3 separate regions of the Homo sapiens genome follow, and regions 1 and 2 are each reported to be linked to region 3. Evidence: microRNA targets listed by miRTarBase, many of them from high-throughput screens and not tested one by one. Region 3 holds a microRNA gene; each other region holds the end of a gene's coding sequence.

Evidence for each region. Region 3 holds the annotated microRNA hsa-miR-374c-5p (AUAAUACAACCUGCUAAGUGCU, at 7,418-7,439, shown strand). A microRNA usually pairs through its seed, bases 2 to 8, with sites in the 3' UTR of a target mRNA and lowers its output. Matches are read on the target gene's strand: a 7mer-m8 pairs with bases 2 to 8, a 7mer-A1 pairs with bases 2 to 7 and ends in A, and an 8mer does both.
Region 1: the mRNA of C21orf91 is a reported target of hsa-miR-374c-5p. Seed matches in the 3' UTR shown: 7mer-m8 at 6,782-6,788, 8mer at 6,643-6,650, 7mer-m8 at 6,550-6,556, 7mer-A1 at 6,250-6,256 and 7mer-A1 at 3,686-3,692.
Region 2: the mRNA of UTP15 is a reported target of hsa-miR-374c-5p. Seed matches in the 3' UTR shown: 8mer at 3,467-3,474, 7mer-m8 at 3,799-3,805, 7mer-A1 at 4,992-4,998 and 7mer-A1 at 5,016-5,022.

What each region holds. Positions count from the first base shown.
Region 1 is chr21:17,785,629-17,796,712 of GRCh38, forward strand. C21orf91 (chromosome 21 open reading frame 91) reads right to left here. Exons shown (of 5, transcript NM_001100420.2): 3 at 10,954-11,084; 4 at 9,580-9,642; 5 at 3,346-7,953. The coding sequence ends at 7,787. C21orf91-OT1 (C21orf91 overlapping transcript 1) reads right to left here and starts at 6,881. Exons shown (of 4, transcript NR_038871.1): 1 at 6,849-6,881; 2 at 1,400-1,582. All of the region lies in intron 2 of LOC124900465 (a long non-coding RNA gene), which reads left to right. RefSeq lists an enhancer at 8,332-8,501.
Region 2 is chr5:73,576,679-73,587,762 of GRCh38, forward strand. It overlaps UTP15 (UTP15 small subunit processome component), which reads left to right. Exons shown (of 13, transcript NM_032175.4): 8 at 274-358; 9 at 1,178-1,327; 10 at 2,073-2,174; 11 at 2,339-2,472; 12 at 2,639-2,697; 13 at 3,199-6,702. The coding sequence ends at 3,416. Among named protein-coding and RNA genes, the nearest start is that of UTP15, 16 kb to the left of the region's middle.
Region 3 is chrX:74,211,144-74,222,227 of GRCh38, forward strand. It overlaps MIR374C (microRNA 374c), which reads left to right and starts at 7,406; the gene lies at 7,406-7,475. All of the region lies in intron 5 of FTX (FTX transcript, XIST regulator), which reads right to left. It overlaps MIR421 (microRNA 421), which reads right to left and starts at 7,318; the gene lies at 7,234-7,318. MIR374B (microRNA 374b) reads right to left here and starts at 7,475; the gene lies at 7,404-7,475. RefSeq lists an enhancer at 11,020-11,084.

The DNA of each region.
Region 1 (11,084 bases), not on the chromosome of region 3:
TGGAAAGAGCAAGAGGATGTGAGCAAGCAAACAAGAGGGGGCTGAACTTGCTTTTATAACAAAGGCACTCTCATGATAACTAACCCACTCCGTCCATAACATTAATTCATCCGTGAGGGTAGAGTCTTCATGACTTAATCACCTCTTAGTAGACTCCACCTCTCGATGCTGTTGCTTTTGGGATTAAGTTTCCAACACATGAACTTCAGGGAACACATTCAAATCATGGTACTACGTTGCATCCATATTACAATCTGTTGTGATCTACTTTTGCTCCCACAGGTCCATTAAAACTGTACTCCATGAATTTCTGGTTGCTAAATACAATGAACATTATTCAATCCTTATTCTTTCAATCTCTTGGCAGAATACTTTCCAGTTGACCAACAGAGTCTTGTTGGCTTTTATATCCCTTAGACCCAAAGACTTACAGGGCTTGGCAGAGTTTCTGGCAACATAACGAAATCTGAAAATTGACGAAAGATTTAGAATGGAAAATAAGTGGATGCCAAATGGTGAAGGCTTTAAATGCTAAACTGTGGGGACTGGCTTTTGTTTTGTAGGCAGTGATAATCTAGAAAGGTCTCTTAGCAGGAAAGTAGCATTACCACATCTTTTGGGAAGTAAATTCTGGGGCAGTTTATGGTTTGGAGCAGTGGTTTCCTTTTTCTCTTTTTTTTTTTTTTTTTTTTTTTGAGACAAAGTCTTGCTCTGTCACTCAGGCTAGACTGCAGTGGCACAATCACGGCTCACTGCAGCGTTGACCTCCTGGGCTCAAGCAATCCTCCCACCTCAGTCTCTGCCCCACCAAGTAGCCAGGACTACAGGCCTATGCCATCATGCCAGGCTAATTTTTATATTTTTTGTACATACAGAGTCTTGCTACATCGCTCAGGCTGGTCTTGAACTCCTGGACTTAAGCAATCTACCGGCCTTGGCCTCCCAAAGTGCTGGGATTATAGGCATGCGCCAACGTGCCCATCCTAAAGCACATTCTTAACAGGAAAACTGACATCTGCATTACCAAGAGGTTTAATTTCTCTTCAGAATCTTCCCAGCAGATTCAGTTGACTCAAAAGGCAGCCCATGTGGCTGAGGGTTAGTTTAGATATGCATTGGCTCTTAGCAGTTCACCTCTGGAAATGAATTTCATAAGATCTCAGAGTAGAACACAGGACATAGACCCAGTGGAAGAGGTTAGGTTTAACAAGAGTTCTGAGTTGCAAGCTAGAGAAAGCAACTAGTTGACTTAGGCTATAAAGGAATTTATTCAATGGGGAGAGATCACCCAGAAGGCTGGGAAACCACGCAGGAACAAAGGTGATGTAATCAACTACTAGGATCACAGTCTAATGTACACAAGGCAATGGCTATTCAAACACCAATGTCAGGAACTTACCTGTTGTACTCACTGGATATGGGATAATGGCTGTTGTCCCTGCTGACAGTTAGCCATTGATGCCCTCAACACAGGCCTTCTCCTATCCAGTTTCTTTGCTTTACCAGTCAGGGCGAGGTGCCTCAGATACACAGGAGGTTGAAGTTTTTGCTTCTAGAGGTGGTGACTTGTGCCATCCAAACACTAGAAAGGGATTCAGACGTGGAAGAACAGCAGAAAACCACAAAACCAAAATCAAAAATAGAAAATAAAACCCAAAGACATAAACTTGCAAGGATCCAATGCATCACTTTTATCAGATTCTAAAAGCAAAACCTTTCGAACAGGTTTTTATGAATTTAGAGTATCAATATATAAAACAGGCCTTGTTCTGCCTGCAGCTCCCCTTCCTATTCTATCCATCATCCACGTATGACTTGTCGGCCTCTAAGACACCTGCAAAGAATTTCTGGTCCTATGATACATTAAAAATTAGGGGAGAACAAACCATTTTACAAATAGTTTGAAAATTCCCAAGAAGGCTGGGAAACTGAGCATGAGCAAAGCCTAACAAATTCAGGCTTAGAAAAGTTAGTTTCTCTTAATGTCAGTTAGTTAAAGCTAAACAGGAGCACTTCATTTGTAGTCTGGTACTCTTTCCAAACCAGACTCTTGGTCTCCATTTCCTCTCCTGAAAAACAAAGCAGTATGACTATTAGACTTTGAAGAGACTTTCAAAAACGACAGATTCTTCTAGTACCCCACGAAATGTTTCAATTCTCCAGCAGTCCTTATTTTGTAATTTGCCTCTGAGCTTTTGTAAAATCATCTGTTTCCTAGTTTTAAACTGCTTGTTGCCATAAAAGCATCATATAAATGACTTTAAAAATCATTTGTGGAAAAAAAACTGGTAATGTAATATTCAGATTCGTAATGCTAACTAAAAGTGACCTTGAATATTTTGTTGTATTCCTATTTTAATATTTTTAAAGCCGATTTAAAAATATTCATATTCATATAAGCCCCAAACTAAAAACAACTCAAATGTCCATCAACAGGTGAATAATTAAATTATGATATATTCATACAAAGGAGCAGTACTCAGCCAAAAAAAGAAAAAAAAAAGGAAATGAACTATGAACTATTACTGATCTTTGAGCTAACATGGATGAATTTTAAGAACATCCAGTGGAATGAAAAAAGCCTGGAGCAAATGAGCATATGCTGTATCACTACATTTATGTAAAGTTTTTAATGCAGGCAAATGCAAAGTACAGTAATAAAGATCAGAACAATCAGGCCAGGCGCAGTGGCTCACACCTGTAATCCGAGCACTTTGGGAGGCTGAGGCGGGCAGATCACCTGAGGTCAGGAGTTCAAGACCAGCCTGGGCAACAAGGCAAAACCCCGTCTCTAGTAAAAATGCAAAAATTAGCCGGGCATGGTGGTGTGCACCTGTAATCCTAGCTACTCAGGAGGATGAGGCAGGAGAATCGCTTGAACCTGGAGGTGGAGGTTGCAGTGAGTTGAAATCGTGCCACTGCACTCCAGCCTGGACAACAGAGTGAGACTCCATCTCAAAAAAAAAAAGGATCAGAACAATCAGTGGAAGGGAAATAAAAAGTGAAGTGACTGTGAGGGGAACCAAAGGGAGTGATGGCTCTACAGTTGCATACATTTGTTAAAATTCAAACAATACAGTAAAATGTTTGTGCTTACTGTATATAAATTACACCCCAATTAAAAAAAATTGCATACACATCTAGTAAGTCACAGGCAACTTATTTCCTGCTTCTGTATTGTTGGGAAACAGAGAATATTAAGTATCAGAGATAAGGTAAGATTATTACAAGAAATTGTCAGATAAGATCATTTATAGACTCCCTAAACCTGCAAAGCAAAACCATATAGACCCACTATTTAAAAAAATATAGCTACTTTTCAAAGCATCCACTCAAGCTAGCAGATAACAAAATACTTATTTTATTGTTGTAAAATTAAAAATAGTAGACAAGCATATATACAGTTCCCAAGCAGAGCAATACAAATATATAAATTATTGCAGTTTTCAAAGAAAATATAACAGCCAAATAATTGCCTACTTTTTTGAAACAAACTTGGTTTTTACCACAGCAGTTTCATTTTCTTTTTCCAAAAGTCTTAACACAATTTTGTAAAGTAAATTTCTAACACCAGAGAGATTAAGTTCAATGACCATAGTATACGCTACTGTTTTAAAGCAAGGTTCACACACACACACACACACACACACACACACACAAAATGGAACTGAACAAAAGTCACTACTTAATACTTTCTAAATTGCCTCTTTTGGAGGTACGGTGAAAGAAAAACATTCTAGATGCGTCTGAAAGAAACAAGGTACACACACTTACTAAAATTCCCCTTTGCTTTAGGTGTAGTTGAGGGAAGTTCAACTAATCTTTAAACCTTTTTTGGGAGAGGGCAATACTCATCTTCATGAATTTTTGTTTACTTTGGTAAACTTAAAATTGTGAAATAATTAAATATTATTAAAATGTATTAGTAATGTGGACTCAAACTAAAAAGAACAGGGAAAGTGTATGTTAACAAACTAGATGTTTTGGAGACTTGATATAATATGGTTCATATCAATGTTACCATAGCCAGAAGTTGCTTAATAGGTTAGACTGCACCATAATCAAGGCAATTATGAAAGGATGAAGTGAAATGAAAATACTGAGATGCAAGCATTATAGCCCTCCTCCAAGTTACCTTTATTTTGTGTGAGGGCTCTAGTATTCTGGTAAATAAACTCTTCCCTGCCCCATGACCACAAAACTTTACTTGGTAAGAATAAACTGTTGGGGGTTTTATCTCTTACTAATTCTCACCACAAATTTCCTCAAATAGTTACTCCCACCAACGTAAAAGTTAAAAATACAATCATACACTGAAACGGCATCAATTATCTTTGCCTTACATCTGAACAAAAAGTATTAACTTTTTTATAGCGTATTACACTTCTTAATAAGCACTTAGTAACAACATTTGTCAGTAAATGAACTGGCATACATCAGAAAAAGTTGACAATAGAAGAATTTTACATGGTACCATTTCAAATTTTCATGTACAAGTAACCCACTTTATGGTCACTAACCTGAACCTCCTAATAAGCTACACAAATAATTTACTCTTTAAAAATTCCTACTTTAGAGCATTTACATTTTATAATTTAATAATGAAAGCAGATTCTTCCAAAACAAAACAAAACCCAAACTGGGAAACATTAAAACACAAATAGATCTAAAAGCTTACTTTAAAAAAACTACAAAAATGGACTAACAAGCCTTACCAGTGTAAACACTAAGGTAAAAAATATATAAACAACATAAAGAAAACACAAAACCATTTTCAGTCATAAATATAGTAAAATGAAAAACCAAATCTCAAGATGCCTGTCAAGATATATTTGACTATATATTTTGACTATATTTCTGAAATCACTAACATGAACTTGACATTGAAAAAATAATCCTTAAATGTATATAAAAATGGGCACTTTGTGGTAAAATGAACATGTGTTTTGAAAAACTAAGAATGTGTCTTTGCTCCACCATTGTGCATAGTCAACGACACAACAAAACACTATTCTGCTGCCTGAATCATCTATTACTGGAGTCTCAAGTGCATGCCTTTTAAAAAAGACTAATTTAGATATTAATATGAGGATCAAAGGATAAGATGATAATCTCAAAGTAAAACATAATTGATTTTTAGCTTCATTATAAGGCTGAACTTTAAAGAGAACAACCTGTGTGGTCAAAAACACTTTTCTAATTTTTAAAACTCAATTTAACGTGTCAAATTATAAAACTGAACGTGAAAAAGATTTGTCTTATCTCACTCCCCTTAATCATATAAGCTCTGAAAATTTAGTAATGGATGACTGGCAGTCTGTTTTGCCACTTTTTAAACAGTAGTACATGAGATATGCTTCAAAACATTCTCAAAAATTACTAACAACTGTAGAGAATAGCCAAGTGTGGAAAACAATATTTGTGATATTTCATGTTCTCTTGTTAGAACTCAACTCTGTACCTGATACTTATATTTGCATACACAGTAATTGCATATTTGATTAAGAAAACTAACATAGGACTAAATTATAAGTTTACCAAACATTTGGATAAACTGCTGTGCAAAATACTTCAACAAAAAGTTTTTTTTACTAGGAACTCATCCAAATAAAGTAGTGTGAGTACCAGCACCACAAAGTTTTTTTTAAGAGCACCTCTCCTTTTTAGAGCTTAAGTAGAAATATCTAAATGGAATAAATCAGAGTCCCACTTAAGACCTTAGCACATGCACACGTTCATCCACTTGTTCCGTACTCATTAGCAAAGCTATGTATATTTGTCAGAAAACTCCTTTCTTTGGATAACACTGTTGTATTCAGGACTGCAACTTATGGCTCATATTCTGGAAATATGCTACTATTGATATCAAATGCAACATATCCCCAACTTTTATGACTGTCCCTAACTCATCTAAACACAAACCCAAATGTGTGCAAACACACTGGCTGGTAACAATCTTACTGAATTACGCCAAAAAAGAGTAAAGTCAAATTTGAAAATGTGGGAACAATTAAGCACTAAGATATTAATCAGGAAATGTATTTACCCAGCTTGTAAGTTTGAATATTTTGATATTGCACACATTTAATTTAAAGCTCATCAAAACTAAGGCAATGCATCCATACTCCCTGGATTTTAAATTCATTTTGCATGACTTAAAGAATTGAGAGAAATCGAAAGCATCTTTCAAAAATTCCCTCCAAAAAGTAATGTTATACTTCAAAGAAAAACAAAATCAACAGATATCAATTAATACCCTCAGGCCAATTTAACACGTCAGCATTACAAAAAGTTGTTTTCAATTAAACTGAAGTGTTTCTTTGCTTAAATACTTTCTTGTGTTCAACAACAAAATCTGACCCAAGCCAGGGTAGGCTGCCAAATTTAAGGCAAATGTCATTTATATCTTTATGCATGAAGCTGCCACGTTACTGGGCTTTTCAGCAGATACTTTCAAGCAAGGATCTACCTCATAAGTACATTCTAAACATGAGTTAAAAACAGAATTTAGAGCCCATTTTAATTCTGCATTGGTTATAGCCTTTACTGTAATACATTATTAAAATTTATCTAGCTGTTTGGCACAATCTGTTAGATAAAAACTCTTTGGAAGCATCATAGGCAACTTACGAGAACATTCTCTTAATACATAGGTTTATTTTTTTTTAATTAGGAGTTTTGCTTTTCTTCTGTAGAACAATCCTATATTTCTCTATAGAGTCTAAAGTTTAGAAAAATACCTCACAATGCTTTCTTTGAGCACTAAGTTCAATGATGGTGATAATACAATTTGGACAGTTTAAGTATTCTTGAAACTTTACCCAAAGTGGCACACAAAATAATCTTACTTTTTTTTTTCAAAGACAGAACAATTTCACAGCACACTCAATTTGAAGATAGACATTATATTTGAATTGGAAGTGAGGCTTGACTTACTCTGTCCAAATTCTAATGCATCACAGTCACTGGTGTGAAGCTAATAATGAAAGAAGCAAGAGGAGGCTTTCATTTCTATGGAGACAAATTGACATAGAAGCCAGATTAGTCTTTTCTTCCTGAACTAAGAACTGCTTTTGTTAGAAAACAAAATAATGTATTGTATTTACCTGAATACTGCTTTAAAAAGTTATTAATTCTTCTTTTACAAGAGGTATTAGAAATTAAAACAACTCAGATTTCTAATCCAAAATATATTTATCTTTGGAAAGCAAGGTAACCGTTGTGAAAACATTGTATTAAGAGAATAAAATGCAGTGACCTGAAATATGGGTGAACATATTCACACATGATAATGTAAATAAATATACAGAACCACTCAAATACACATTTATAAAGAGAATGGCAAAGTACCTAAAATAGCATTTTCACATATAAAATTTTTATATTAAAATATTGCTCATAATAAATAAGAGGTGATATGAATTCCATTTCCCTCTTAAAAATTATCTCTAGTAGTTTACACTAAGGAGTTAATCTGTTGTTTTGACAGGTGAATTAAAATGTTTAATAAAATGACACTGTAACAGTATATTTAAGTAGTCACATGTGATAAAATTTGTTTAGTAATTCTGGGAAAAAAGAGTCCCCAAATGAGCCAAAATGATTAGCCCTAGAAGACTAGAGTATAATGATCTGCTTTATTTGACAAAGATGTTAAATACTGCCTTATGTTTGGCAAATTTAATGACCATAAAAAAACGGACCACAACTTTCTTCAAACTTCTTCAAAGTTTGCATGTCTGGGAGACCAATAAAGGGCAGGGCATACGAAGTAAGTCTGTTTAGGTCAGTTGTTTATGGGTAGGTGCGACTTCATTCCTGTTCGCCCTACTTGCAGACATGGTAACTTAGAACAGTTCTTCAGAAGCTGTTCGATGGCAACGTGGCGGACATGGAGCTGTGAGGCCAAAGAATCTTTTTCTTGCACTTGGTGAGTTAACTCTTCAAAAACTTCTGTAAAAGATTTAAAAACTTTCATTTTTAGTATGCAGAAAGCCGGTGCTATGATTTATATTTCAAGAACTCTAACTGAAATCTATGCATTGGGCAAAGTGTCACAATGAAACTGATTTGATACCAAGGAAACAGTTCTGTTCTCTACAAAGCATATCAGTTCTGATCATCCTAGGCATCTGTATACTTTACATAGCCAAATGGAATTTGGCTCTTCTCCATCAAGTGACTACAGAGATACACAGCAAAAATGGTGGTTGCTACTGTAGCTGAGCTACTTTTCTCAATTAGAATCTATAAACAGATTCAATTAGTACATAATGTGATTTATGGACAAGAAGTGCCTGTTAGTATTCAGGTCTGGAACCCCCTCTAAGAGGCTTTGGAATCAGACTACTAAGAGTTTTGAATCCTTGTTCCTACTCTTACGTGCCTCAGGCAAGCAACTTTTGGTTTCAATTTCCTTTTCTGTGTAACATTAATAATGATAGTAAGCACTTCACCAGGCTACTGTAAAAATTAAATGAGATCATATTTGTAAAGTACTCATAAATTTCTACTACAACTATTATTGTGATTATTTTTATTATTCTGAGAGGCTGTGTGGTTAAGCTTTGGAGTTTAAATCCTTGATCTGCTACTGATTGGATGCATGATCTCTGTAAGCAACTTAACATCTCTGAAGTACAATTTTCTCATCTAAAAGGAAATAAATTGAAAAGGAGACAACTGCGGAATCTGAACATTACTTGTTAGTGTTAGCATTATACTTGATGACGTTAAGGAATTATTAACTTTAAATGGTGTGATAATGAGACTGTGACTGTTTTTTAAAAAGTTATCTCTTTTAGAGGAAATCCTAAACTATTTATGGACAAAAAACAGTGTGTTAGCTAGGATTTGTTTGAAAATAATCCATGCTACTGGTAGTGCAATGGGAATGGATGCAAGTAGAGATACTGATTATTATGCCTTTGCTAACAGTTGAAGCTGGTGAAAATGGCTTAAAGGGTTCACTATACTAGTCTCACTACTTTTATATATGTTTGAAATTGTTTATAATTTAACAAAAAAGACTAATATCACATGCCTTAAAGAACTGTTTGGGAGGACTCCCACATAGTGCCTGGTGCAATAGTGGGTAGTCAATAAAATGTTAGTAAGAGGTGGTAGTTTCCATTTTCACTTAGAAAAGAAAAATGTGGCTGGGCGCAGTGGCTCACACCTGTAATGCCAGCTCTTTGGGAGGCTGAGGCAGGAGGACTGTTTGAGCCCAGGAGCTCGAGATCAGCCTGGGCAACATGATGAAACCCCCTCCCTATAAAAAATAGAAAATTAGCTGGGTGTAATGACAGTAAGTCCCAGCTACTCGGGAGGATCACCACTGCACTGCAGCTAGGGTGATGAAGCAAGATTCTGTCGCAAAAAAAAAAAAAAAAGGAAAAATGTATTTCCTCTGCAGTTGAAAGTTGTTTCTTTCTTATTCTTTTTGCTCTGGAAACTCTAACAGGTTTGAATATCTCATTTCCAAATTTAAATGTAGATAAAGCCAGTGGTGTCCTATCATAGATGATTTTCTATGTCAAAATTTGTCACACACAAAAAAGTACTGACAGTGATTCTTACCCTGGATTTGCTGTAGGAGCTTTGCATTCAGTTGCTCTACCTCACCAAGAGTCATCGAATTCACTGAAACATGAAAATGTATTCACTATTACCACAACAACCTAGGAAAACATGCTGCTTACATCACCAACACAATATCCTATTTTTAAAAATCAGCACTTAACTGCCAACACAACATTCAGCAGTACTCCAGTATTCAACCATTAACGCTCGTAAGTGTGGAGTAGAAGTTTTCAAACCCTGACCACAACCCATGGTAAGAAAATTTTATTTTTATTCTTTTTTGAGACAGGGTCTCACTTTGTCACCCAGGTGGCAGTGCAGTGGTGCGATCAATGGCTCACTGTTGCCTCAACCTCCTGGGCTCAAGTGATTCCTCCCACCTCAGCCTCCCTAGGAGCTGGAATCATAGGCGTGTGCCACCACACCTAATTTTTTTATTTTTTGTAGAGATGGGGTCTCCCTGTGTTGTCTAGGCTGGTCTTGAACTCCTGGGCTCCAGTGATCCTCCCACCTTGGCCTCCCAAAGTGCTGGGATTATAGGTGTGAGCCACTGTGCCTGGCCAGAAACATATTTTTTATCACTCCCAGTACATCACCACCCTCCAATGAAATAAAAGTTTCACCAAAAAATAGTAGTAGGTCCAATGAATTCTGGTATCTCCTATTCGGTTTCAGTTTTTAAAAAGTGTTAGTCACTACCCATTAAGCTTATTTTGATTAAGCATTAGATAGTTTATAACCTGCAGTTTGAAAAATAAATTTGTCTGTCTAGATGTAGAATCTTAAATAATTCACATTTAGAATCAAGAAGTTGTATAACAAGATAGCAGAGGTCCCTTCTGGCTCTGAAAACATGATTTCAAGACAATTAAAATCACCTCAGCTTCTGTAAATTTTTGTAGAAATAGATGTAGAGAGAATGAGTCACCCTTTCTAACTTTACAATAAGTGCACACATTACCTTTGGCCTTTAGTAAAATGTCACATTTTTGCTTCTGAAATGCCACCACCAGTCAATTAGTCTTACAGGGATCAGCAACATGACAATGTGTATTAGCCAACAGATGAAGCTGTACTTCTAAACTATACGAGTCCTAGATGTTCCAATTCACAGTTTGTTGATTCCATTTAGTGTAATCATTTTAAATGGCAAAACAAACATGGAAATTGCTTAACTTCAATGCTTAGAAGACAGAATCCCAGTGAATGAAAAATTTTAAGATGTCTCATTTTTGCTAAGGTGAACCTGTTAAATACAATGTTTCCCAAATCTATGATTCCACAGCAAAATTCTTGACCCATTACACATCTATACAAATGTACAAAAATCCCAAACCACCCAACTTTTACTTTTCTCCCCATTTTACTTACATTCCTCTCTGCTGTAATGTGGATGCTGGGTCTGGACATTAGCCTCTGGACTAGAGATTGTCTCTTCTTTTTTCTGTGCCTGGTTGTGACTATGAGGCCACAATACACTGTTACGACATAAAGTGGCACCT
Region 2 (11,084 bases), not on the chromosome of region 3:
GTCAGGCTGGTCTCGAACTCCTGACCTCAGGTGATTCACCCACCTTGGCCTCCCAAAGTGCTTGAATTACAGGTGTGAGCCACCGTGTCCGGCCTACAGCTCATTTTTTAAGGGATTCAGTGATGAATTAGTTTGTAATTAACATTACTAATCTTTGTTTTTCTTCACTGTTGTACAGATTTTAATGTTTGTATTTTGTTTTCAGAAAATAGAAATTTGCATTTTATACTCGTTTTCAAGGTGATTTTTGACAAAGCTTTTCCTTTTTATTAGGAAGGTGAAAGTATACAGCACAACTTCCTACAAAGTAGTCCACAGTTTTGATTATGCAGCTTCAATTTTGAGTCTTGCCCTTGCAGTAAGTACCTTTACCTATTTTTAAGTCTGTCACTAACCCTGCCTGTTAAATGAAACTAAAATGGAACTTTGGGCTTTATTTTTAGATTTGAGTAACTTTTCTTGCCACATCAGATATTTGAGTTAAGACAATTGCTGGAATATGTAACTCGTCCTATTGACTCAGCATGAATTCAGATTTAGGTCCCACTCACTGTAGAACTTCAAACTAAATACAGTGCTCTAGGCATTGTTAACATTAAACGCAGGACCTGGGAAGCTGGTAAATCTCTCTTCAACTCATTTAACTCAAGAGTATTATAGTACACTAGAAAGGCAGATTAGCTCTCTGAGCAGAAAAAAAGATGTGGGGAGAAGGGGACAACAAAATGAAATATCTCCTTTTCTTTGTTACTGCTCTTTCTGAAATGTATACTGTCAAGTTTTATGAGAAGCCACATTTGGGCAGGAAGGCATTTGACTATATTATATAGAAATCTGATTTGGGAGAGGAAAAGCTTATTAAAAATATTTTTGGGGGGCAAGATCATAAAAGTCTTGCTACTGTGTAATCTTTGATGCCGTTAACTATGTATTATACAAACTTTGCCAGTGATATTTTACAAGTATAAGTTCTGTCAATGTAGTTGTATCCTAAGGAAAAAATGATTTCGCTTTAACGTCTTGCACCAATCATCGTTAGGCAGACTATGTGTATTTGAATGGAACTGTTGGTGAATGTATGGACAAGCAGCAAACACATGGTAAATGTGTTTTGAAGTAAAAGTACTATAAATTACGAGTTAAGAATAGACTAACTTATTTTTCTAATTGTTATTAGCATGAAGATGAGACAATAGTTGTAGGAATGACCAATGGAATACTGAGTGTTAAACATCGGAAATCTGAAGCAAAGAAGGAATCACTTCCCAGAAGAAGAAGGCCTGCATATCGAACCTTTATTAAAGGAAAAAATTACATGAAGCAACGGGTATTTGTGCATTTCTCATATTTGTTTAAAGGGTGAAATTTGTTAGAGTAGCCAGCTTCATCCCTGCACATTACTGGAAAGCGTAGTTCACATGGCACTTTATTTTGCTTTTCTCTACATCAGAATTATTTCTAGATTGCTAGATTGGGGACATTATTGATGAGTAATGGGGAACAAGGACTACTTTATGTAATACTCTGCATCATAACATAATGTTATAATGCTTTACTGCATTCAAAATAATGTCTTTCACATACTACCTGATTTGATCTAAATCCCAAGAAGTAGTAGAACCAATCATGTCCCTGTTTGGCACCTGAGAAGACTGAGCGACAAATAATTTGTGATTGATTCAGGATTTCATTACTGGTATCCAGAGTTGTTGAGACTAGATCTCATTATCTCTGATTGTTGTTTGATTTCTCTTTCTACTGTACCACACTGCCTGCCACATAAAGAGAATTGAAATGAGTAATTTTTACCTAGAATTAAGGCAATGGTGCATGTTGTAAGTTAAAATTATAAGAGAGTAAGAACATGTTGATGTAGCAAGTTACTCCTTTTTTTTTTTCTTTTTTTGACTCTGATTAGCAGGATGCATTTTTATTTAATCTACATTATGGGCATATGAACATTATTTGTGACATAGTTCAGAGATACCACTTCATTATGAAAAAGTTTATATTAAATGTATATTTACACAGATGCTGATTTTCCTTCTCTATAAATGTACTTTTCATTGCAGGATGACATTTTGATTAACAGGCCAGCAAAGAAGCACCTAGAATTGTATGACAGGGATCTGAAACATTTTCGGATCTCTAAGGCACTCGATAGAGTTCTTGATGTGAGTGAGCATTTTTTAAAAAATCATGTTATTACTTACCCTGCATATTACCATGACTTGGAACTGTGAAGATAAATATTATTCAAACTTGATAATTTAGTGCAAGACAGTGATTTTTTTTGTGCTGTTTTGTCTACTCATGTTGACTTTGAAAATTTTTCTAGCCCACTTGTACAATAAAGACACCCGAGATTACGGTGTCCATCATAAAGGAGTTAAATCGAAGAGGAGTCCTTGCAAATGCGCTTGCAGGTCGGGATGAGAAGGAAATCAGTCATGTTCTTAATTTTTTGATAAGGTATGTTTTTTGTCTGTGAAACACTTACATTTTGCATCTGAAATCCTTTATCACCAAATAAAAGACATTTAGTTTGATCTTTGTAGAGAACTGATGAAACAAATCTGTTTTAAGGATTTTTTTTTTAAGTTTACAAGTTTCACTAAACTGAATTTTTACTTTGTAGGAATCTTTCTCAGCCAAGATTTGCCCCTGTTTTAATCAATGCTGCTGAAATAATTATTGGTAAGTCATTGTTAAAACTTGAAAATCCTAACATGCTTGCAAAAGTAGAGATGTCAAATAATCAAATTTGGAAATCAAGTAGATCAAAATATCTTGCTTTTATCAAATCTCAATATGGATTTTCATGGAGAAAACAACAAGTCAGTGCAGTTTAAAAAGTAGTAAAATGTTTATAGTGGTGTGACTTTGAATTGATGGGACTAGGGTTATTATAAAAAATTTTTTTCATAGACATCTATAATGACGATGACAATTTTTCAAATGGGAAAATGAAAATAAGTCAGGAACTCCACCCTATACTTTCTGTAATTATTATTTTTTGAAATTAATTTACTCAGAGGGATTGTTATACTTTCTATAAATCATTAATTAATTATAAAATAAGTACAGATTTTTCAGTGTTCTTATGTTTAATATTTTTATACTTTTAAAAACTTTTGCTTTTCACTTAATGTATGGAAAGATATTGCTAGTTAATGTGTTTTCTTTCTCTCTTTTTAGATATATATCTGCCTGTAATTGGTCAGTCCCCTGTAGTTGATAAAAAGTTTTTACTACTTCAAGGACTTGTAGAAAAAGAGATTGATTACCAAAGAGAATTGTTAGAAACCTTGGGGATGATGGATATGCTTTTTGCCACCATGAGAAGGAAGGAAGGCACTTCTGTGTTGGAACACACATCTGATGGATTTCCAGAGAATAAGAAGATAGAATCATAGTGTCTGCTAAATAAGACATATAAGAACTCTGAAGTTGGAATAGATTTGACTGTATTAAATGTTGGCGAGAGACTCTCTTTGATACATTAAAAAAACTGTTTGCAGAAGCAGTTCTGTGGAAGAGACTGGAATAATTATGGCCGGAAAACAAGTACCCGTTTTAAGTAAGACATGGTTTTCCATGTAATATTTTGAATTATAGCATCTTCACCTAGAAGATCTCAATTGTCTTAGTCACAGAGTAGGTTTATCTGGGATGGATATTAATTTTAATACAGGAGTGTTCTGTATCAACATTTGGGTTGGTATTCAGATGGGAATTCAAATATGAATCCTCTCTGGAGAGGGTCCAACTGGGAATCCTGCTAAAGGAGCAAAGCCTTGTATTACCTCTGGAAGACAACAAAAACAATTGGCAACAACAAAAAGCCTCTTTCTTGACTTTAATCAGTGCCTTTGGGATTTCTAGGCCCTTGCTTAGCTTGCTTCCTGTCTCCTTGATATCTACACTTGTCTTAGATCACATGCCCTGCTTCAGCTGGTAATGGGACTGCATCGGTTCCAAGTGTGGCAAGTAAGTTTTCGGCTCTGAAGAACTGACACTAGCTAGATTTGTATTCAGAGTGTGAGAGCAAGCTCTACAGATAGACCTTATTGGACTACTTTTTTTTTTTTCTTCATGCAGCCTTTCTACCAAGTTTTCACCTTGTTTCAGGTCAGAGGAATGATAGAATTTGTCATTTTTCTTACAACAGCCTTTCAGACTATTCTTCATATGTTTCAAGCTAATCTTGTAGCTAAGCTACCTAATCCTCTGAAAACTGTTTTCTCTGATTTGTATTTAGATTCCTCCCCCCATTATTCACAATCATATTGTATTTCGGAACCCCAATGCAGAGCAGTTTGCTTTGAAAAATAGTTGTTTTTAAAAGTTTAATGTAAATAATTATTTTTTAGAAGTTTTTTTTTTTTTTTTAAAGACAGGGTCTCGCTTTATCGCCCAGGCTGGAGTACAGTGATGCAATCTCAGTCCACTGCAACCTCTGCCCTCCCGGGTTTAAGCAGTTCTCCTGCCTCAGCCTCCTGAGTAGCTGGGATTACAGGTGTGCCCCACCACGCCTGGCTAATTTTTGTAGTTTTAGTAGAGACGGGGTTTCACCTTACCGGGCTGGTCTAAAACTCCTGACCTCAAGTGATCTACCTGCCTCTGCCTCCCGAAGTGCTTGGATTACAGGTGTGAGCCACTGTGTCCAGCCTGTAACTATTATTTTTTTATAAAGAGAGATTCTTATTTTCTTGGCTTTTTGATGTATCTGTTCCTGATAGATAATCATTGGCTAGTAACTCCTAGTACACTGGTTTCACAGTTGCTACCTCTCCTGCTTTTCTCTAATTATTACGCCAACTCAAGTAGTTAAAAATCAGTAAGAAAAATGTCTTGAGCTAGAAGAACCCATAGAGGAAGATTTTGTAATGCGAATCTCCTCTCATAATTTTAGTTCTGTAAATTCAGGGTTTTTTTTTGTTTTTTTGTTTTTTTTAAGCCGAAAAAATGCTTAATATGTTCCAGTAAGGGTATTAAGTAAAAATTAAATAAACGTATTAAGTTTAACATATTAAATTAATTTAACATTTAGACTAACATTAACATTTAAATTAATATGTTAAGTGAATATACTTAATATATTCTAGTACAGGTATGCTTGGAAATAGGGCGTTTCCTTTTCATGAATTGATTTCGTACAGCACAGTGGCTTATAAGGAACCAGCAGTGTTTTTCCCTGAGTAATTATGAACTTAGTCAAGATCAGAAGCTGGGTTTTGGGGTTGAGAAGAGTTCATTTATTTAAATAAAGTTTCTATTTAAAAACCTTTTTAAAAAGTTAACATCATAAATATTCTGATAATTTGCATAGTAGTAAAAATTAGAAGTTGAAATTCTACCTAAAGCTGTAGTTGCCGTCAATTGTGTAACATGTGACAAAGGTTTTCCCATATGTCATTTCATTTGATTCTCACCACAACCATCCAAGGTTGATGTTATTCTCATTTAACATTGAGTTAACGAAAGTAGTTGATTCACTCTCGAAGTCCCTGAGTGTGAGCTCTTCATCCTAGCACTGTGAAGTGGTTTGCCTGCTGGGGCCTAAACTCCTCATTCCCTTTAACAAAGCTTCACTGAGTGCTGCAGTTCTCAAAATATGTAACAGTTAACACATTTTTCAAACAGGTTAGGAAGCAATTCCCATAGCCATCAATACTTAAATTCAGGAGTACTTTTTTGTTTGTTTGTTTTGTTTTGTTTTTAGAGACAAGGTCTCTTTCTGTTGTCCAGGCTGGAGTGTAGTGGTGTGATCATAGCTCACTGCAGCTTCTGTCTCCTAGGCTGAAGCTATCCTCCCACCTCAGCCTCCTGAGAAGCTGGGGCTACAGGGATGAGCCACCATGCCCAGCTAATTTTTTATTTTGATTTTTTGAGATAAGAGGTCTCACCATGTTGCCCAGGCCTGAGGCAATCTCCTGGTTTCAAGCAATCTTCCCACCTCAGCCTCCTTAATGACTGGGATTAAAGGCATGAGCCACTGCGCCCAGCAGGAATGGTTATTATATTCATTGAGATAAACTGTAGTATTTGCTGTTTGAAGTATTTAAACATAATTGGCATATTACAATATGTGACACTGGCCTTAAGATTCTAATTTAAAATGCTTAACAGACTTTTAGACTTATGAGTTTCAGTTGAAAGGTATTTTAAAATGTTACTAAGTCTGCAAAAGTACTGAAATGTTTCAGAGAACTTGGAAAGTCACCGTATGTTTAATTTATTATGTTTATGAGATTTAAGCACTTGGGAAGGTTTATGCTAATGGGGTCAAGCATTTGCAATGCTGCTTAAAAGAATCATTTTTTTAAATGTATAAATGCTATTAAGTTGTTTAAAGGAATTTGAATTGTAAATGGGATTGTTAAAACAAATTTAGTCTGTTCAACTCAATGAGGGCATTTCATTTTCTAGGAACAAAATACCCTCTTAGACATTAAAAAGCCGCATGCCTGTTCCCTCAGCTATAGTTAACTGGACCATGGTGGTACAACTGACTCAACCCTTCTCTAAGCAGGGATTTGTAATTGGGATTTATAATGAAATTCCTGATCTGGGAAAATGGGAGGCTGGGAATGCTATGTCTAGGTCATCAGCGGAGAAAGTTGGTTTGTAGAGAATGAACAAGAATGAAACCTAAGTGCAAAGAAAATAAAGATTATCCTGCTTTAATAGTTCAGACTAGAGGAGAGAGAAACCATCTTAGTTCCTGATGACTTCCTATTGCCCTATTCTGGTTGTACCTCTTCCCCCAGGGGTCCATGATATTTTTGGATTCCCTCTAACACTTGTTTGCTTAGTTGACTGTGAGTGGTTTTCTCTTATTTACAACCAAATGACTCTGAAAACACTAATCCACTGGTCCTGATATTTATTGAGACACATTAGAGGCCAGGGTATCAAGGTTATAGCAATGAACAAAATAGACAAAATATCTCCCTCAATATTCTGATTAGGGGAGATACTCAGTGAACAAGTACATATGTAGTGGGGTCACGTGGTGCTAAATGAGATGGAGACCAATCAGGCAGGGGAGGGAGATGGCAAATGTCAGGGGTGATTGGTGGGTTGGAGTTTTAAATAGAGTAGTTAGGGAAGGCCTCACTGGGATGGCAATTGAGCAAAGTTCTTTAGGAAGTGAAGGATCCTCATTGCTATCTAGGGGCAGAGTGGAGAAGTGTGCCTGGGGAGTTAGGAATGGCAAGGTGGCCCATTTAGCTGGCATGGAGCAAGGGAGGGGAGAGTAGTAAGATACAGAATGGTGTAGAAACTGGCGATGGTGCATTTTGACAGCTCTTTAGGGAGTTTTAACGTAAAAGGGAATACAAAATTGGGCAATGACTGGAGGTATGTGGGGTCAAGAGTTTTTTTTAATTAGGTATAATTGATATGCTATAAACTACACATATTTAAGGTGTTCATTTGATATGTTTTGACATTTATACACCCTTGAAACCACAATCAAGTTAATGAACATGTTTAATACCCTCAAAAGTTTCCTCCTGCCCTTGGTAATCCATCCCTTGGCCCCTTCGCCTCAGGCAACTACTGAACTACTTCCTGTCACCATAGATTAGTGTTCATTTTCTAGAATTTTATAAAATGGAATTAGAATTTAGGATTTGGGGGGTCTGGCTTCTTTCACTTAGCATAATTGTTTTGAGATTTATAATTAATTTGAGATTTAAGTTGGCAACAATGACAGAATGAATGTGTGTCAGTGGGGATAATCCTGTAGAGAAGGAAAAACATGATATAGGATCCAGGGGAGGTGGCACTGCTGGAGCAGTGGCAAGGGTCAAGTGCCCAAGTGGAAGGGTTGGTTTAGATAGGAGAAGATAGGAGAATAATAATTTGGGCATAGTTCAGGAGGGAAGGCATATACGGGCACAGAGGCAATTAGGTGGGTAGAGGTGATAGTGAGGGTTTGTGGAAGTTAATTTGGTGTCTCTTCATTGGAAAAAACCCAAGAAGGTAACCAACTGAAATGAGGTTAGAGGAAGAGCAGGTGGAGGTGTTGGAAGTTTGATGAGATAACAAGATATGAATTAATCCTAATAAGGTCAAGAACTCAAACTTTGGAGCCATCTGCATAGATTTGAATCTTGGCTTGACCACTCACTGGCTACACGATCTGGGGGACGTTATTTTGACATTTTGTATCTCATTTTCTTCATCTGTTAATCAGACAAACAGAATCACATAGGATAGTTGTGAGAATTGTGCTAATACCCATAAATGTACCTAGAATATTTCTTCTAAAAAGTTGTTTTTAAAGAACAGTGTTGAGAAGGGAGAGTAGAACAAGGAATTCTATCTGTAACTGACTGAACAATCAATTGAGACAACACTACCTTCAATCCAGCCCCTAGAATATTTCTATTGTCAGCTAGTATGATGGGGGGAATGAATGGACTGGAAAATGAAGGAGGGTCCCTGGCAGCACTAGAGGCCCACATGACTAAGGAACTGAATGAGTGTTCTGGATTTACACTGAGACCCATCAGCATGGTGGCATGTTTTTCCCTTTACATTCACCTATTAGGAGGCAGATGTGGAACAGACTGAGATACGGATTTAACAAGCAGTGGGGTTTTTGTAGGTGAATGCAACATAACTGGGCAGGGACAAAGGTAGTGTTAAGATTGATGCAAAGGAGTGATTGTAATGATAGAGCGTGGAAGCTAAGCTGGGTAAGTATGGAAAGGAGGCCACATGGGATTGAGGACAGTGAGAACACCTGGATCAATGGATTGTTGGTCTGTGTGTGGTTGAAGAGTTGCGGTTTGCCTACTAGAGATAGCGAGCCAGAGGTATGAAAGATGTTGAGAGAACTAAGCATTATGACAACAGCAGTATTTGAAAGAGTGACAGCAAGCCAGGAGCTAAAAAGTTGAAAACATGATAGGTCTCATGATGTGTGGTGACCAACAAGGTGGGAGGTATTAGGGATATAGTCAGATGACATGAGATTCAGTGGTGAGGCATTCTTGGGAAGGAAGGTGGGAGAATGGTCTGGAAACAGCATTGAGGATTACCTATACAACTGTTAGGAGTTGTACAGGAGATATGAGAACACCATCAGCAGCACTGGAGAGGGCTGCAGAAGAAACAGTGTCCTCAGCAGAGAGCCAAGGCTCAGATCAAAGGCGTGGAGAGAATGTCAACACGAGGTTGAGAGTCTGAGGGTTGTTGCTGATGACTGTGAGACCCAGAGGGCAGAGGCAAAGGGTTTTATGAGCTAGAGAAGGATAGAAATGGGACCACAAGAGAGGATGTATGGAGTCTAGGAGATAAGGCATGATCTAGGGTTCCTGGCTTCTTGTGGCAATAACTGGCATAAAGAGGGTTAGAGGGCATGATGACAGCCCTGATCATCTTCAGGTAGATGCTGGGTGTGAGGGAGGGAGAGAAGTGAGCTCTCCCCAGGAGCTTGTAGAATTCTGGGCACCATTCTTCACACCTGCCACACAGGTGCTGTGGCGGGTGATAGAGGGGCAATCACTTCTACAGAAACAGGAAAACAGATTAAGTTCACTCCAGATACCCAGTTTGTAAGTGAAAAACAAACAACAACAACAACAAAACAGGATTTGGATTCACGTAGTCTGTTTTTACAACCTGCACCATTTATCATTGCTTGAGACAGCCTCATCCTCATTCTGCTCTCTCTCTTCCTCCCATATTCAAGCAGTTTTCAACATAACCCTCAGCTGCCACATCCTAGATGTCCTTTTGTTTTTCCATTCCCATCGCCATCTCTTTGTGGCCCCAATTCCTTTGGACTTCTGCAGCACCCTGCCTTACAGCTCCTCCAGCTTAGCAGTCCTCCAGTCCATCCTCCGTATCATGGCTAGAGTGGTCTTCAGAAACATTTGATCTCATCACTCCCTGGAGACAGTCTATCACAGTGTCAGGGGGAATTAAAAGGACATGGTGGCAACTGAATGGAAGTGATAATGTAGGAGGTGAAACGACCAAACCCTCCTTCCATCCTTCGCTTTAGCTCAGGCAGCTTCCACGTAGAAGGGTCTTTGGCTTGAAATACTTATGATGTTATCCTCGGTTGGAAATTTGGTTTTTTTGGAGATCTTGATTCTGATTCAGAGCCTGTCGCCACTTATTTTTTCAGTCGATGTTTATTCCTCAACTGTTTTTGCATCTGTTTACACAGTTCAAACATCCAGCCACTCTCCACTCTGACCTGAGAACATAGAGGCAGGGATTCCTGCTGGGTCATTGTGCTTTTGGTACAGAGTTAAAGTCTTGAGCAATTTCTCCTAATGGTTTTCTGTTGTTTTTGCTTTTGTTGTTGTTGTTTTTGAGACAGGGTCTTGCTCTATTGCCCAGGCTGGAATGCAGTGGTGCGATCATGGCTCATTGCAGTCTCAACCTCCCAGGCTTAAGCGATTCTCCCACCTCAGCCTTCCGAGTAGCTAAGACTACAGGCCCACGCCACCACTCCCAGCTAATTTTTTTTTTTTTTTTGGTAGAGACGAGGTCTCACTTTATTGCCCAGGCTGGTCTCCACTCCTGAGCTCAACTGACCCTCCCACCTTGGCCTTCCAAAGTGCTGGGATTACAGGCATGAGTCACCGTACCTGGCCCTACTAAGGGTTTTCTAGTGATCTTAAAATTAATTAAAATTAAGAATTCAGTTCCTTAGTCACTTTGCCACACTTTGAGATGGCTGAAAATAGCCACATGTGGCTTGTGGCTACCATATTGGACAACACAGATACAGAACATTTCCGTAATTGGAGAAGTTTCTACCAGACAGCCTTGGACCTTTGGAGAAGTGCAAACTCTTTCTTTCTGGAGACTTGAGTCCACTTCATTGATCTGGTCTGAAGTACTCATCTGGCAGCTACTTTATCTGCCAACGCAGCCACTGGCTTGGTCCTTCCTGGCTCTGGCCCATCTGTTTCTAACTTAGTTCCCTGGCCCTGACTGCCCCAGATCTGCCCCTGAGTTTTCTTCCTCTCACTGATTCTTGCTCATAAACTCTTCCCATGGCTTGATTCTTCCAGCCCTGTTGCTTGGCACCAGCTCCCCAGGCATTTTCT
Region 3 (11,084 bases):
CTAAATACTGGTAAAGATACAAAGCTACTGGAACTCTCACATATTTGTAATTGGAATGCAAAATGCTAGGGAAACTTTAGAAAACAGTCTGGCACTCATTCCCACTCCAAAGCATTTACCCTATAAAAATGAGCATTTATCACACAAAACTTATACCTGAAAGTTTATAGCAAATTTGTTCATATTCACCAAAACTAGAAACATCTTACAAGTTCATCAGTTAGTGAATGGATAATAAAACTGTGGTACATCCACACAATGAAGTACTACTCAGTGATAAAAAGGAATGAAATAATTATCCACAAAACATGGGAGAATCTTGACTGCGTTTTACTAAGTGAAAGAAGCCAGACCAAAAGGGCTACATATTGCTTGATTCCACTTATATGACCTTCTGGAAAAGGCAAAACCATAGGGATGAAGAATAAATTGATGGTTTCCAGAGATTGAGTATGGGGTAAGGGGTTGAATACAAAAAGAGCCACCAAGAGAAATTATTAAAGTGACAGAACTTCTCTGTATGGTACTAGTGTAGAAGATACATGACTGTGCATTTGTCAAAACCCATAGAACCATATACTAAAAAGAGTGAATTTTACTGTGTGTAAATTAGAAATAAAAATTTTAAAGCAACAAAGGTATATTTTTACCTATTAAATTAGCAGAGATTTACAAAATTAGAAAGGCCATGTTTTGATGAATATATGGAGGGATATTCACATTTATACACTACTGGTGGGAATGCAATTTGCACAACTGTATTGAGGAAAATTCAGCATCACCTGTCAGATGCTCTAATAAATGCTCTCATCATCCAAACTAAATAATTTTAATTCTGGAACCTTATTCTAAAGAAATAATTCCAGATGTGCATAAAGGTTAATGTACAATGATGTTCATTACATTTAAATTTTATACGCAAACTTGGTAATAATCAAAATGTCCAATAACATGACATCATCTAAATAAACTTTGTTAAATCCATAAGATATTATGGAGCACTTAATATTGTATTTTTCAAAGAACAATAACATGGAAATATGCTTGTGAATTTTCAAATGAAAAAATTAGATAATAAAATGATATATACAATATGATGTCAATTTTGTTATAAAACTGTGTTATATACATAATTTTTAAAAAGAATGAAAGGACATACACCTGAATATTACAAATTAGTTTTCTGGCTTATAAAATTATACATATTATTTACTTTTTAATTCATACTTTATTTTTTAACAATGATCACCTGTTACTTTTATCATGAAGGAAAACTTTTTTTTTATTTTTAAAAAACAAGCCCAGCCCAATCTAGCCAAGCCGATGACCTTTTCAGTTGCTATCTTCACTCAAAATGCCACACTGTTGTCCACTGGGTGCTTATTGTCCTTTTGCTCCTTTAGGGACCGCACTCACTGGTGATAAACACCCGCCAAAGTGAGAGTGCAGGTGGCAGCATCCTTCCAAGCTCATTAAATCTTTCAGTTAAACTGGCCTAGTAAGCCATAGGCTGATACTGGGATCAATCTTCATGACCCATATAGGGAACCAATGTTTTGAGAAGCTATAATGCCCACCTTATGTAATTGGGAGTTTCCCCTCTTCTAAATCTCTTCTATGAAATAATATTTTGCAATCCTTCTCCAAAGCAACTCTTTTTATTTTAGATATTCCATCATGCCATGGGGAATGACAAATAGTAGGTCCAAGGATAGACTTTCCATTGTACTATTTCCTTATCCCAGATGTGGTGTTTGGGGATGCCTAGAGCCATTCTGTCCACTGTTCCTGTCTCATCTCACCTATCCAATTTTTTAAGCTGGCTATTTAGTACTACTTGTACTATCTCCTGTGTACTTGATCCCTTTAAGAGGGTCACAGACCCCTTGTCACAGAATCAAAGAATTCCTCTAAGTTACAAACCTTGTTTTGGGTTGTTTCTAAATTGGGTCAAGAGAAACCTCCTCAAGGGCAGCTTGACATGAGAATAGTGGCTGGCAATGACTCTCACAGTAGCAACAGAGGTATTACAGCGCAACAACTTCTCTCCAATCCACATTAAAAAGGTATGGATTTATGAAGTAAGTCTCACTGCCTGCTTCAAAGGATTACTTCAAATCCATTGAAGTAATAGATTTTATGGCATCTCTCATTTTCTCCCTTCCTTCCCTCCCTCCACTCCTAAGGGCAGTAAGTTCACTCCTATCTTCATTTACAAATATCACAGATCTCAGGTTTGCCTCATTCATGTAAGCTTCTAAATCCAATATCCACTAAATTATGTCAAGCATCTGTAACTCCATTATGGAATTTCATAGCCTCCTCTTTCCTCTCTATTTTTTAAAATCTTTAAAAATACTTATTTCAGTAACTTTTGGGGTAAAAGTGGTTTTTGGTTACATGGATGAATTGTATAGTGGTGAAGTCTGAGATTTTAGTGTACCCGTGGTACTGGTATAAAAGTAGACACATAGACCAATGGAACAGAATAGAGAACCCAGAAATACAGCCAACTATTTACAACCAACTGATCGTTAACTAAGCACACAAAAATATAAACTGGGGAAACAACATCCTACTTAATAAATGGTGCTGGGAAAAGTAGATAGCCCACATGTAGAAGAATGAAACTGAATCCATCTCTCTTACCTTATACAAAAATCAACTCAAAATAGAACAATGACTTAAATCTAAGACCCGAAACCATGACATTTCTACAGTATAACCAGGAAAAACTTTTCTGGACATTGGCCTAGGCAAAGGATTCACGACTAAGACCCCAAAAGCAAATGCATCTGCCTCTCTTTTTATATCCAAGGGCAACATGAATGTAACTCGCAACACTCTCTAAGGTTTCATTCACTCATTCACAATAAAACTTTCAGATGGGGACTTGTTAGAGACAAATGGCTTAGGACGAGAGAAAGCAAAAAAGACCTACTGAAACTCATCAAGGTGGGGAAAGAAATGGAGGAAGGTCAGTGAGGGCAAGAAATTCCCTAGGATGACTCTAGAAAAGAAAAATGAGGCAAGAGCCAGGATAAGGTGACAGAAGATGTGAGCAAAGGTCTCCTGGGGATTCATTAGGAATGTATTTGACTCAGGCACAGTGGCTAACGCCTGTAATCCCAGCACTTTGGGAGGCCGAAGGCAGGCAGATCACTTGAGGTCAGGAGTTCAAGACCAGCCTGGCCAACATGGTGAAACCCCATCTCTACTAAAAATACAAAAATTAGCTGGGTGTGGTGCCATGTGCTTATAGTCCCAGCTACTTGAGAGACTGAGGCAGTAGAATTGCTTGAACTCAGGAGGCAGAGGTTGCAGTGAGCCAAGATGACAAGATGGCGCCACTACACTCCAGCTTGGGCGACAGAGCAAGACTCCATCTCCCCGCCACAAAGAAGGAATGTATTTGAAACACACAAGAATTTCCACTTCCCTTATAACCTATCCTGCCCATCCTCGAGAGACAAAAACTAACCAGGACTCCTGATATTGTTTCTGTTCATATCTGTATGTCCTAAAACAAGGACATATCTGATGACCAAATCAGAAGGGGGACCTGGGATGGGGAAAGCCCTCCTACCAGTATTTCATGATCAGTTGAGACATCAGGCATAAATCCTGGGGCTGGAGTTCGCAGAGTTGCTGGCCTTGACTACATCTCCAATGGCTGATATGAGATCAGGTAAGGCGTGGGCATCAGAGTAATCAATTTGAGTATTTTTCAACTCCAGCCATAACTATGACAAATTCAACCTCAACCTTAGCATTCATGCCTCTCTGGGTCTTAAGTGATGGGACGAAAGTGCAAATGAAAGAAGAGGGTGGCTCCCAAAGGCATATACGTGGGAAAGAAAAGTGCCAGTGGAAGGAGAAAGTTATGGCTTTTGTTTGATCTCATCAGTGATATGTCTTACTTATAAGGCTTAAGGAAAAAGTAAACAAATATGAGCACAAGGATTGGGTTTACTTTCAAATCAGCTGACTACTCTCCTTCTATGAAGCTGGGTCATTTATTGCTGAAATCCAAACCCATCTCTGGTGGCCTATATTCCAGCAGTGGGGATCCACAACATTATTGAAGGCCAAACAGAGCAAGTACTCTACCATGTTTTAAGAATTTTTTTTCCCGTAAACATGGGGAGCTGTATGGGAAGTAACTATTCATATACACATATCGGTGAGTACAGTAACTTCTGAAATGCGACAAGAGAAAAGAGAAATCTAAGCATGCATTTGAAAATAGCAACCTGTGATCTGGAGAGGATCTTAATAGTGATCCATTTGTTGAATGATGCTTTGTGAAGCTGAGATGAAGAGAGGTTGTAGTCATCCCCCGCTACTTCTTTCCTTTTCTTCTCCCTCACATTAAGTCTTCTACCAGCTCCTCCTGAGGAATAAATACAAAGCAGCCCCTACAAGAGGGGATGGGTTGTCTGAGGGCCTGATCACTTTAACACAGTAGTTCTTAAACTTCTTTTGGAATATTGAGTCATTTGGAGAATATAAAAGACATGGATCCTCTCCCCAGTAAAATGTACTCAAAAGAAAAATGTCTGCATGCCATGTCAGAGGTTTTATAGACTCTCTTCTCCTAAGCTTTACCTTCCTTGTCCTTAAGGCCATCTCTGTGCCTCAATTGCCAGCCCTCTTCCCTAACAGCACAGGGAAATTCTACAATATGGACCACTAAACTGGATGTATTCTGACCCTAGAGTGGCTTTTACAAAGTAGTTGTTACTCACCTATTGATGTGAGCTTTCTTTTGTCTACCCTTTATCCTAAAAAGCTGAATTAATAGGATTGTGTCTTGCTCCGGTTAATCAACATGTGTGTACTATGACTGGTTTTTTGTTTTTGTTGTTGTTTTTTAAGAGCAGCACTAGCTCACTCTTCAACTCAGAGGCTCAGAAGCCAAAGTACATTATGGAACATGGCCAACAAATGCTTGTAACATGTAACTAACTTAGGTCAAGATCAAGGAAAAATTTAGATCCTAAATAAATCTTTTTATGCCACTTCAAGCTGACCAGCCTGCAGCTCTTTGAAAGAGTTAGGAGACGGCCACAGGATTCCAGCAGTGCTAAAGGCCAACAGCTCCCCTAGCTGTTCTCACCAGGAATTCTTGCGCATTCTCCCACTCCTGAAGTGTGACAGACCCAAAAGAGGGAACAGATGGCATATAGCAAGGTGTCAGGCATAGAGCAAATACTCAATAAAAGAAGGAATCACCTGGATCCCCCCACTCTTCTAAGGCTCATCTACTATCCCACTACAGCCTTTCTTCTCTAGTATTTGCAGTTAACATGTGCCAACCTCCAAGTCATTCCTCACAGTCACTGAAGCCTTTTGTACCTGGCCCAGTGTTCATTCTAAGCCTAGCTTCTACTATAATCCTGGGTTACTATAATAGTCATGTAAATGATCATCTGACATCCTAGCTTCACAGGTATCTTAACCACTCCAGTTTTGAAATCTAACACTCCAAAGTCTACTCTGATTACAGGTCCTATCACTCCAGTTTTCCAATTACTCAGCACTCACCTTGTTCACATTAAAGCCTCTTTTTGGCCCAGACTGAGGCCACTCCTGACCTTACTTCCTTCCATGTCCAGGTTGGATTTTTTTTTTTAAATGAAGTCTCACTCTGTTACCCAGGCTGGAGTACAGTGGGTGGGATCTCGGCTCACTGCAACCTCCGCCTCCTGGGTTCAAGTGATTCTCCTGCCTCAGCCTCCTGAGTAGCTGGGATTACAGGCATGTGCCACCACACCTGGCTAATTTTTGCATTTTTAGTAGAGACAGGGTTTCACCATGTTGGTCAGGCTGGTCTCGAACTCCTGACCTCAGGTGACCTGCCCACCTTGGCCTTCCAAAGTGCTGTGATTACAGGTGTGGGCCACCGCGCCCGGCCTTAGTTTGGATTCTTAAATCCATTTCTGTGTAACTCGTCTCTTGCTAGCTGTCCACCCCTCAATCAATCAAGGCAACCAAATACTGCTAGTGACAATGCCCCAAAACCACTTCATATTTTCCTGAGCTTCTAACCCAGTTTCAAACTCATTTCTTACTTTGATATACCATAAGCTCTCCTGTTAATGGTCTCACTCCAGCGTTTTGGCCTGAATATTCCTTAGGGACTCTGGTTCATATTTAGCCCTCTAGTATTTCTGTTCCAGCAGCTTTTGTCTTCATATTCCTGTTCCTGGTCAGCTTCCTCCCCATCATCCACCTCTACAATTACAAATCTTCACCACCCTTGCCAAGTCCTCTTCCTTACTCCTATCCCTATCTCTGTGCTCCAGCAAAGAGGTAGTTCCACTTACCTAAGGCTAACCCTCCACCTGCATGTGTTCTAGAGCCATAAATTTCACCCTTCCAGCTTCACCTGCATCATCTTTCAAGATCATCTTCCATCTATTATCATCTCTCTCTTTCTCACATCTACAATGACTCCCTTCTCAATTCCTTCTGCCCCATGGTCTGCAAACACACTCAATTTTTTTCTCATGTTAAATGATTCACTGTAAGGCGCTGGATAAGTGGTTTTAACTTGTATTCTGGTTGTCACATCTACAATCAGAAAAGCTTCTCACAAAATAATGATTAAGTACAATAAATAAGATAAAGAAAATATGAACCTGGTGAGAGGTGAACAGGACGGTGGAGGATTACCTGTCAGTGCAGGTAAGGGGATAGCTGGAGTAAAGTTGAAAGGGGAAAACTTTAAATATCAGCCACAGGAGCAAACCTCAGACTGTGAGGATGAGGTTTCTGTTCAGACAATGAGCACTCTGGTCCAACCCAGGGAGCAATTAGCAGCAATTACAGTAGCAGCAACAGCCATGCAACATCAGCAAGTAGCTAAGACCAAAATGCAGGCATAGAAATGAAGTATTTCATAGAAAACAGAGTAGCAAATATGACATATGAGGCACTTGTGCTGCTACTCCCCCTTCTCCGACCCTCAGCAGACATCACTAAATAGTTATAAATGTCTTTCACACTGAGATAAGACCTGGTTTCAGAATCTTGTTATAAAACATAATCAGGGCAGGCATTATCAATCAATTGGAGATGGTACTTGAGATGAAGTGTATTTGCTATCATTGCACTACACAGAAAAGTCCTCAACAAAAGAATTAGAAGACAGGAATAAGCTTCAGGAGTAAGCATTCTGAAGAGAGCTTGGACGTTGTTGGCAACTGGCGGGGACAAGCTGAGCCCATGGAGATCACAGAGCAGGCGCCCAATTAATGTCTGTTGATGATTCATTTTTTCATTCAACAAACATTTAATGAGGCCTACAATGTGCACCGGATTAGGCACTGTGAATACAAAGATGAGTAAGGCACTGTCCTTGCCCTTAAGGAATTTAAAGTCTGGTAGACGAGAGCCATAGACACGGACAATGATAATACAACCTGCTAAGTGCTAGGACACTTAGCAGGTTGTATTATATCCATCCGAGTAGGATTTCTTCAGAGGAGCACCACTCCAGGTTGCTGCTGGATCCATGAAGTCCTCCCAGGCACCAGGGTCTGCTGTTGTTTTTGTCACGTGCTGGGTGTCCCAAGATCTAACAATAATAGCTGTAATTAATGTATAGAGTGCCTATGACAAACACTTTACAAATATCTTCATGGAAACTCTGAAAATTAATAGTTATATTAGAGGAAGAAACTGAAGTTCAACAAGTTTAAGTCACACAGCCAGCAAGCAGTTGAATTAGGTTTCAAATCCAGTTTTGACAAAGTCTAATGCATTTTTCTGTTTTCAGGATAACCTTTATGCAGGTGTAATACAACAACTTTTCAACAGCTTTCTATTTGGAACTAAAAGCAAAGGCAATAGATTAGTCACTAGATCATGGAGTGATTAATTTGGTTTCCCACTCTACCTGGCAGAGAAATAAAAGGTGAAATGACCTCACACTTACATACCATTGAAAACCTTCAAGTCAGTTACTGTTTTTCTTTCTCAACCCTAACATCGTCACTGATCATTCAAAATATAAGTACCTCTAGTCAAATCTCTTCTTTTAATACTTGTCATAGTCAACACCATTATCAGCAACAACAGTTGACACAGCATTTAGCTGTATATTCCAGGCCTGTTCTAAGCAATTTACATAATTAGTCCCTTTAAGTACTTTTTACCCCCATCATTGAAAATAAATATTATTCCTATTTTACATAAGAGAAAACAGAGTCCTGGGGAAGTGAAGAATCATGCTCAAGACCACATTGCTAAGTGTGAGAGCAGATTTGAGCCCAGGCTACCTGGTCCCAAGACCCAAACTCTCACTTTACATAGCTCTGCTGCACTGCTCAGGGCCTCCTTTCCCAACTCTTGATGGCAAGTTACACAAGGCCCCCTGAAAAACCCAGTCCTACTTACATAAAATCTCATCACTAACCATTCTGGTCATAGAAAGCCATTCTCTAAATCCCAAATATCAATACTCAGAGCCTTAATTGGAAAATTTCCCGAAGAACATTGAGTTTAGAATATACCTTTGCAAAAAGAGAAAATAAACACTCGATATGTTTAGGTTTTTAATTATTGAATTTTTTTTTTACTTGCAGATATAGTCATAAACGTTTTAAGATCCATAAGCAAACTAAAGCAATTATGCCAATAATGACTAAGGCCACTGCTTCCTCAATTGAGTCTTTGATATAAAAGCCTTCACTTTTGGTTAATTACAAAAAAAAAAAAAAAAAAAAAAAAAAAAACCGTGGGAGATATGTGACAGTGAGAGTAGGCCTGCTACTGATGAGAAGGACCAGCAACTTAGCAACACCATAAAATGTCTGCTGCAATTCAGGTGTCTAGGTGTCTCCCTGAGAATCAACATTTCATATACAGCTGTTCCCAGAAAACAATCTTGCACAATCTGTACAGTCAAGTTATGATCTAAAAGGAGTTAATTGCAACATTCATCCAAAGAATATGACAGTATTTTTCATCAAGGTCTTTTTCTATAAGTTTTTCTATAACTTTTCCTATAAGTTCTATTATGTCTATACAGTCATGTGCTGCCTAACAATGTTTAGGACAATGATGAACCTCATATATGACAGTTGTCCCACAGTTGTCCCACCACAAAATCATATCATATTTTTACTGTAGCTTTTCTATGTTTATATATGTTTAGGTACACAAATACTTACCATTCTGTTATAATTGCCTACAGTATTCAGTACAGTCATATGCTGTACAGGTTTGTAGCCTAGGTGTGTAATAGGCTATACCATTTAGAGAGGTTTGTGTTAATATACTCTATGAAGTTCACATGACAAAATCGCCTAACAATACACTTCTCAGAACATATCCCCATTGCTAAGCAATGCATGACTAAATTTTTATAACTTCCTAAGAGGTTATCCCCTCTTCGCCACTCCCACTCCTTTCAGCCCTACATCATTTCTCATCTTAGCCACCACAGTATCCTTCTAACTCATCTCCCTGTCCAGATTTGAAAACATTCCTGAACACACCCCACACTACTGCCAGTGATCATCTAAAAGCATCCCTTTCTGAAAACACTTATAATGAAATCCAAATCCCATGGCATACCATATAAAGTTCTATTCCTGGCCTACATTTCCAACCTAATTTAGAGAACTATTTGTAGTTCCCCAAACTCATCATACTACTTCCAATGTCCATGCTTTTGCTTGGAAAGCCTTTCCCTGTTTTTCACCTAGTCAAAAGGTGACTTTACTTCTTTAAAGACTCAACTCATATACCAGGTACTCTGAGCTCTGTCATCTCCAGACTCTGTAAAATGATTTCTCTTTGAACTCCAGAGTATCTTATACATACCTCCATTGTAGAGCATACCATATTGTTGTAATTATATGTGTACATAGATGTTGATCTCTCTCACTAGACTGAGAACTCCTTGAGGACGGGGATGGTGTCTAATTCATCTCCATATCCCCACTACCCAGCACAGTGCCTGGCAGCTCAAATGACAGCAGAGAGGAGAGATGCTGAATATGCAGGAGTGAGAATAAAGCAATGTTCTTGAGTAGTGGTACAATACAAATATGCTGAATGAATTGAAGCTATAGAAAAACATTTTGGGGCTCAATGTTGTAAAGAGGTCTCAAAAGAAGGGACAAGCTAACTCAAGGAGGAGTCCCCAGTTACCAAGTAAACTTACTCAGAAGTTAAAAGACCATTTGTTGGGTATGTTATCCAGGGACTTGAACTGGGGTTAGTTTAAAATAATCTATTTGGGATAGGAGACTTTTAAGGTCCTCCCATACTGGAGCTTCTAAATCTATGATCAGTGCCACAGTCAAGAGAGCCATCATTCTGAGAGCCTATGTCACAGAGTGAATGGTGACTCCCACAGTTGTGGACAAAGGCTAAAAACAGATCACAAACTTATAACTCATTTGGTTGGGTGTGGCGGTTGACACCTATAATCCCAGCACTTTCGGTGGCTGAGGTGGGCAGATCACTTGAGCCCAGGAGTTTAAGACCAGCCTGGACAACATGGCAAAACCCCATCTCTACGAAAAATACAAAAATTAGCCAGGCATGGTGACATGTGCCTGCAGTCCCAGCTACCCAGGAGGCAGAGGTGGAAGGATCATCTGAGCTCAGGGAGGCGGAGGCTGCAGTGAGCTGGGATTGTACCACCGCACTCCAGCCTGAGCAACAGAGTGAGACCTTGTCTTAAAATGATACAAAAACAAACAAAAAAAAACCCTCATCCTCTGTTGATCCTGTTCCCAATTGACCCTTGAACCTGGCGCAGGAAGTGTTTTTAAGGCCAACAAGAAGGACATCATGACCCTAAATATATCCTCTACAAGCTGCTACCTAATGTTTTAAATTCCCCCTTAAACCTTTGGTGCCTTTCATTCATGTTTGCTAAAATGCCACTTAATCTAATATGTTGAGCTAGTATCAATTAACTTTACACTACACAGTAGATACAGGGAACACACCATCCATTCCCATACCCTGTGAGATCATCTAATCCAACCCTCTTGCATTAACACAAATCTAAGAACATCCACCAAATGTCCAGATTTTTAACTCTGGTACTCAGTTTCTTG